Linked DNA regions of Homo sapiens. The protein of the gene in region 1 interacts with the protein of each later gene in a pairwise test. Each region holds a gene or a part of one and is shown in the gene's direction. Other genes may lie near its edges.

Region 1 (3,660 bases):
AGACTGACACAGGTGTACATTTTAGATAACGTTGGCAGTCTGGATTTGAGGGTGAGTGATCTACATATAAGGATCCTATTTCAGTTGTCTTTTCAGAAATTCTGAGGGCCTGAACTAGCTGGTACAGTACAGTAGGGGTTGGATTCAAAGAAATATAGAAGGGAAAATAGACCGACTTCGTTAATGAATTGGCAGGAAGAAAGGGGGATCAATTATGATGCCAGTTTTCTGGGTGGATATTGGTAAATTAACTGAGATGAGGAACACATCAAGAAAGCAGTCAGATATTTGAATATGAAACTCAGGCTGAGTCAGAGCTGAGACTAGAGATTTGGGAAGCATCACCTTAGAGGTACTATAATGAAAGCCTGTGATTATATATCCTACAATAATAAGAATTAAGACATCATGTGATTGGCCATTGGCAGCTATCTTCCCATAACCATTTGTATTCAAATGGGGAGCTAAACTTAAGTGTTCTCAGCAGGGGGTTTGGTTTGACTGGAATGATGATGCTTCATTGTCAGTTCAGTATGCATTTTGTTGTGTACAGTGTTTTATTTTGTGATTTGAGTGTGTCTGTGTGTGTGTGAGGGAGAGACAGACACACATACTATAGAGTCTAAATGAAATCTGTCATTAATCTCTTAGTTTATACATTTGAATTTTTTGGACCCTGTTATAATGGGGTTATGCTAAAGTAAATATAGAAAGTAGATAAGCTTTCTCAAGGGGAGTGTGTAATTCTAAGTAAGTTATTAAATGTTTCCAAATCTCCATTTTCTCAAGTATAAAATGGGAATGGCAGTTCATAACTTTCTTGACTGTTTATTAGGATTAGAGTTAGTAACAACTGGTATATCTATCATGTACGCAATACATGGTACATATTATTGGATAGATAACTATGTTATGTACTTAGATATATTATGTTCTATATGTATATAATGTTATGTCATAGATAGTAAGAAAAGGATTTCCTAGCAGTTGAAAAAAATATATTTTGCAAAAATATCTATAAAATGTTCATCAGCCTTCAACATTTTTATTAGTCTATTTCTAATATATGAATGCCTCATATCAATATTAGAATAGTAAAAAATGTCAGAAGTTATATAACATTACCAATATGTTTAATGTGCCTTTTTATTAAATTTCTCATTCTTTTTTTTTTTTTTTTTTTTTTGAGATGGAGTCTCGCTCTGTCGCCAGGTGGAGTGCAGTGGCTCGCTGCAACCTCGACCTCCTGGGTTCAAGTGATTCTCCTGCCTCAGCCTCCCAAGTAGCTGGGACTACAGGCGTGTGCCACCACGCCCGGCTAATTTTTGTATTTTTAGTAGAGACGGGGTTTCACCATGTTGGCCAGGATGGTCTCGATCTCTTGACCTCATGATCCGCCCACCTCAGCCTCCCAAGGTGCTGGGATTACAAGCATGAGCCACTGCACCCGGCCATATTTCTCATTACATTTTTAAAAGACCTTATCTTACCTTATTCTCAGAGACCAATTGCATATTTTAATGGAAGATGATAACTGTTATGCTCCCAGGCAGTTATTTCATTTACTTCTCCTAGTAAGCTTTATTTTCCCCTATTTAACAAATGAAGAAACAGATTCAAAGAGGATAAGTACATTTTCTAGTCAACTTGTAATTATAAGAACCAGAATTAGTAGCCTGTAATCTTTCTAATATGTTCCTCTTTTCTCTTTTAAACTGTTAAACTGTATTATTTTTCAAATGTAGTTTCTCAGTTTGAACACCAGCTGGTTTAAAGTAATTACTTTAAAGTAATTAGGTGACCAGACTAGAAAATGGGATGCAGAATCTGGTTCTAGTTTTAGTTCTGACATTAGCCCGCAGAATATGATCTTTCAGAAAACAGAATCTTTGTAGGACTTTAATTATTTAATCTCTTCAATGGAAGGCTCCTTCTAGATATGAAAAACTGTATATTGATAGAAGGAGTACGAATTTCATCCTGAGTTATTACTTCTTAGCATTCTGCAGATTAATTTTTAGAACTCATTACATTTTGTTGCCAAGAAATCATGGATTTTTAAAAAAATTATACCTTGTAGGATTCAATTCAGCTAACATTATTGTGTGCAATTTCCAGTTTCTGAATTAGATGCGGAGTATATAGATATGAATAGGATAATCTACCCTGCAGGAATTTATGGTCTGTGGTAGATTATGTGACTCTCACTGATACACTGACATGGAAGAAGCTTAATTTTTCTTCCTTTTTTTTATTTTTTGGAGGTGAAATAGAGGAAAAGAGAGGGAAAAATTTAGTGATCAGATTGGAAAATAGCTCACACAGTATAGTTTTTTTTATAAAGCAGAAATATAGACATCATATAAAATACTATGCTTGGTATTGGAAGGATATTTGCAAAATAAATTATAAAGCCTCTCACCTTAAGGAGTTTCAGTCTTATTGAATGAAACAATACTCATTTTAAAAAATTAGCTAATAGATTAAAGTCAATAAAGAAAGCATTATATAATTTCCAACATTAATAGCACCAATGGGAGTACATTCGGGATTCCAAGTTGGAAGAAATTAAGCTGGAGTGACTGGCAGATATTTTATGGAAAAGATAGAATTGGAAACTAATTTTATATTGTTGGAGAAGAAAAATAATAATACTTTGAGTAAATAATGTAATATACATGGCATATTCCAGAATAGCAAAGAGATCTCTCTGGTAAGAGCAGAGATTTCACATTGAGAAGTTGTGGGTGGTATTGTTGTAGAGATTGGTTGGAGCTAGATTGTAGATGATTTTCGCGTCCAGCTGAATTGGCAATGATGAATACTAAAACTTTGAACAAGAGATAACAGGATGAAAACAATTTTAGTCTGCCAGAGATACATAATAGTCAATAGTGGCTGCAATCAGAAAAACAACATCAGCAAAATACTGTAGGGATGAGAATGATGAGTGCTAGACACATCTGATGAGGATCTCATGTAGATGGTGGAAGTCACAATGATGAAGAAAGAAAAGATGGATGAAATGGGTTAAAAAGAAAACCGTATAGACTTGATGATTCAGTATGCATTTATTAAATGTTTGCCTTTTGTAAGGACATATGCAAGGTTCTGTGGATGAATTTAAAGTAAATAAGAATGATGATAAAGACAAATCAGCAATGACTAGGTGATTTGAAACCTATATGATGTGGAAAATATTGGCGCTGCCATATGATTGAATGGTAGGATAGACTACTACTTTTCAATAGAGAGTAATTTTAACTTCGTAGATTTAAAGTGATGGGATTAAAATGTTTGGTAAGACATCACAAATATGGAACTGATGTCAATTCCAGTAGGGGACAGGAATAAAAGGATATAACTATGGGAGTCATTATTCCAAAGAAGATAGTTGAAAATAGTTGAAGCCGTGAGAATTGTTGCAGTCTTTTTTTTTTTTTTTTTTTTTTGAGACTGAGTCTTGCTTTGTCGCCCAGGCTGGAGTGCAGTGGCGCGATCTCAGCTCACTGCAAGCTCCGCCGCCTCCTCACTCCATTGTCCTACCTCAGCCTCCTGAGTAGCTGGGACTACAGGCGCTTGCTACCACGCCCGGCTAATTTTTTTTTTTTTTTTTTTTTTGTATTTTTAGTAGAGATGGGGTTTCACTGTGTTAGCCAG
Region 2 (3,660 bases), about 73 Mb from region 1:
TTGAATGGCTAAAGCTTGTTTTCTTCTTCAAGTAGAATTAGTTGGAATGATAACTTGGTAAGCCATTTTGATGCTGTTGCATTTAATAACTGAGAGAGCTTAAATCTTTATGTCTTGTTTTTATATAAATATTCTTAACTATATTATACAGTAGAATACTAATATAGAATGTAGCACAAATGAGGCCTGATACATACTAGATTTATATGCCTTTTAGTGCATAACATTTTCTCAACTCAAACTATGCAAATAACTTTTTAACAAATGGAAATGTGTGGGTGTATATGTGTGTATGTGTGATTTCATTATTCAGTCTTTAACAGGGCAGTCTTTTAGGTAGTAGGCATACTTTTATCTATTTTTACTTTTAGTGTATTTTATAATATAAAATGTTATATATCTAACAGTAATGCTGCAATTCCAGCCTTTCATAGTTAATGTGGGAATTTTTCTGTGTTAGTAACACAGAGAAGAAAATGATTGATGTTGAGTCTCTGATAACCTTGTATAGCAAAGAAATTCATTGGGACATGTCCTAAAAGTATTTGGTGGGAAGATGTGAGGGCAACTCACCATGAAAGAAAAAATACTTTTTATTTAAGAGGGAAAACAGCTTTTACTTATTCAGTGATAAAACATCTACATAAATTAACGATTCTGTTTTCACTTTTAAATATTATTATTTGTCAGATAATATTGCTTGGGCTTTTTGGTCTTAACAATTATTTATTGAGTGACTCTTATGTGTCAGGCAATGATCTAGGTGCTGGGGATACCATGATAACAAATACTTTCATGACATCCTCATGAAAGTAGTATTCTAGCACTGAATATTCGCTTAGAAAATACTTTTTTTTTTTTTTTTGGTAATTGTTGGATGGAATTTTAAAAAACAGAATTGCCCTTTGTTCAGATATTTAATTGAATGTGTGATTTGGGACTGCCTTCACTTATTTTGTAGCTAGATAATTGAATAACAAGTATTATGGAGTACTGATAAGTAGTTTAACAGGGATATGTACAAAATTATGTCAAAACCCAGAGGAAGGACAGGAAAAGTCTCTTTAGCCAGTAAGAGACCATGGTTTAGTAGGGTAACTGCAAGTAATTAAGCATGATTGCCTACCTAGCATGGTGTCTAGTCAGAGTAGGTGTCTAGTAATATTCCTTAAGGCAGCAAATGAATGAATGAATGAATGAATAAAATTTCAGAGAAAAGAGGGAAAGGATGGAAAATTAGATGGGAAAGTTTATTTAGATTATGAAGGCCATCATTGTTTTTACTTTTTTGCTATTACTAATGGTATTCTAATGAATAGCCTTGTGAGTACCTCCTTGTACTCATGTATGAGAGTTTTCCTAAGAATAGCTGGGACATGTATACCTTTATACCTTCTTTTTTTTTGAGATGGATTCTGGCTCTGTCACTCAGGCTGGAGTGCAGTGGCACAATCTCGGCACACTGCAGTCTCCGCCTCCCGGGTTCAAGTGATTCTCCTGCTTCAGCGTTCTAAGTAGCTGGGATTACAGGCATGCACTACCATGCCCAACTAATTTTTTGTGTTTTAGTAGAGACAGGTTTTTGCCTTATTGGCTAGGCTGGTCTCGAACTCCTGACCTCAAGTTATCTGCCCGCCTTGGCCTCCCAAAATTCTGGCATTACAGGTGTGAGCCACTAGGCCTGGCCTATCCCTTCATCTCTACTGGTTATTGCTAAATTGTTTTCAAAAGGATTATTACCAGTTTACACTTGCACTTGCAATGTGTAAGTTTTCACAGACTGGGAGAAGATTTATAACATGTGCATAACTGACAGGTTAATTTAGAATTAGCTTCTGTGATTTCAGAAAAAAAATCCCAATGGGAAACATGGGCAAAGAATATGAACAGGCAACTCACAGAAGAGGAACTCAAATGCTCAAATATGTTTGTAAATGAAGGAATTACAAATATAAAATGTGTTTGTGTTGTCTTAACTTTGAAGAAGACTTGCAGACAGTTTGTTTTTATTTTTTGACAGAAATAAGGTACTGTTTAATGGGGAACTTTTGAACAGAACTACAGCTAGCACTTAGAGAGTCTCTGAACAGTTTAGGAAAAGGAGCTCCCTCTCGACATGCAAAGGAAAATGTCTCTTCACTAAGGTTCAAGGCTTGGCGAACAATGAAGGCCAGATTTTAGATCCACTTGTGCCAGGCACCGTTGTGCAAAGCACAATCTGCATATCTGTACATGATGCCCTGCCCCTGAAGCATGTCTGTGGAGTCTTAGGTTTCCACAAAGAACACTATGAAAATTACTGCTAAATGGGTGGTGTCATTGAAGGGCTTTAAGCAAGGAAGTGAGACTATTGTTTATTCTATGTGGTTTTAAGAATACTTTGCATTTGCAGAGAATGTTACAGAATTTCAAAGTATTTCAAAATATTTTTACAAGTAGACTTTCATTAAATCAGCACCAAAATCCCTAGTGGTATACGGGGTGTTTGTTTTATCCTAACTTTACATACAAAAAGCTGAGGTTAAAAGTATATTTTCATTTGTACCCCCACTTTTTCCAAAAGATAATAAAAGATTAAGTGAGCTGTACCACGGTCTCAGTTAGCCTCACAGCTATTAGAGTTTCTCTTGCTTTATTGGTTTTTAAAAAGATTTTATTGTAAATGAAACTAGATACGGAAAACCACACAATACCAATGTATAAATTAATGAGTTATAAGGCAAACGTCTAGAACTCTTGTAATTATAACTAAGTCAAGAAATAGAACTTTTCTAGGCACCCCACAAACTTTTCAATGTGCCCCATCCCAATCATAATCTTTCTTCCCCCCCAAAATAGCCATTATTCTTTCTTTTATAGTAATAATGGGCTTTGGCCCATATATTGTTCCCAGGACCTCTTAGTGCTAATTTGTCTTTTGACTCTCACTCAAGAAAGAATGTTGGAATATCACTGGTGAGACTGATAATATTATCAGGAATATTAGTTTTATATTTAAAAATACCCTGCCAACTTTACTACTCTATTGTTAGAAACAAATTACTTGCCACATACTATACAACCAACCTCAGCATACCAGTTGTAAATCACCATTTTAGACTGTGCGTCTTAGCTGCTTGAATATAGTGCTTTAAAAAATGCTTTGTAGTCCTCAAAAAACCTTAAATAACATTTTTATTAGTAGGAGAGTTGGGTAGCATACACAGCTGTAGAGCCAGAGGAGTTGGCAGTTTGCTGGAGCTACAATTTCTTATTATTTACAAAGAGCATATAGCACATAAGGCCTGATAACTGTCTCTTTTATTGAAGGAGACAAATTTTATAATCTGTTGTTTGTAAAACTGAACCAAACTCTGTCATTTACATAGTTAACTACAACTTAGTTATAAAGTATTTCCCTAGTGATGACAAATAGTCCCACTGTTTCAGTCACCACTTGACTGTTATGTGGCAGAGTGGCATGTATATTTATATGGTTTATTATTTATTTTATGGTGTATATGTATTTTCTGCCTCCTTAAAAAGTAATTGTTCTAAGGAGTGTTTAATGTTATATCTGTGTGCTATTCTAAGAATGCCTGAACAGTTTTTAGTGTCTGCTTCCCACTTACTTTCCCAGGCTTTAGACCTGGTGGTTTTGTTTACATACTTTCTGGCAAG

The links. Proteins that work in one complex are often made in the same cells at the same time.
Region 2: the proteins of LRIF1 (region 1) and TSEN15 interact in binary tests that used the Homo sapiens proteins (3 or more experiments, as listed by UniProt).

What each region holds. Positions count from the first base shown.
Region 1 is NC_000001.11:110,957,263-110,960,922, reverse strand, and holds part of LRIF1 (ligand-dependent nuclear receptor-interacting factor 1), read left to right. Parts: intron 1-3,660. UniProt on the Homo sapiens protein: Together with SMCHD1, involved in chromosome X inactivation in females by promoting the compaction of heterochromatin.
Region 2 is NC_000001.11:184,058,184-184,061,843, forward strand, and holds part of TSEN15 (tRNA-splicing endonuclease subunit Sen15), read left to right. Parts: exon of another isoform or gene 1-57; intron 58-3,660. UniProt on the Homo sapiens protein: Non-catalytic subunit of the tRNA-splicing endonuclease complex, a complex responsible for identification and cleavage of the splice sites in pre-tRNA. It cleaves pre-tRNA at the 5' and 3' splice sites to release the intron.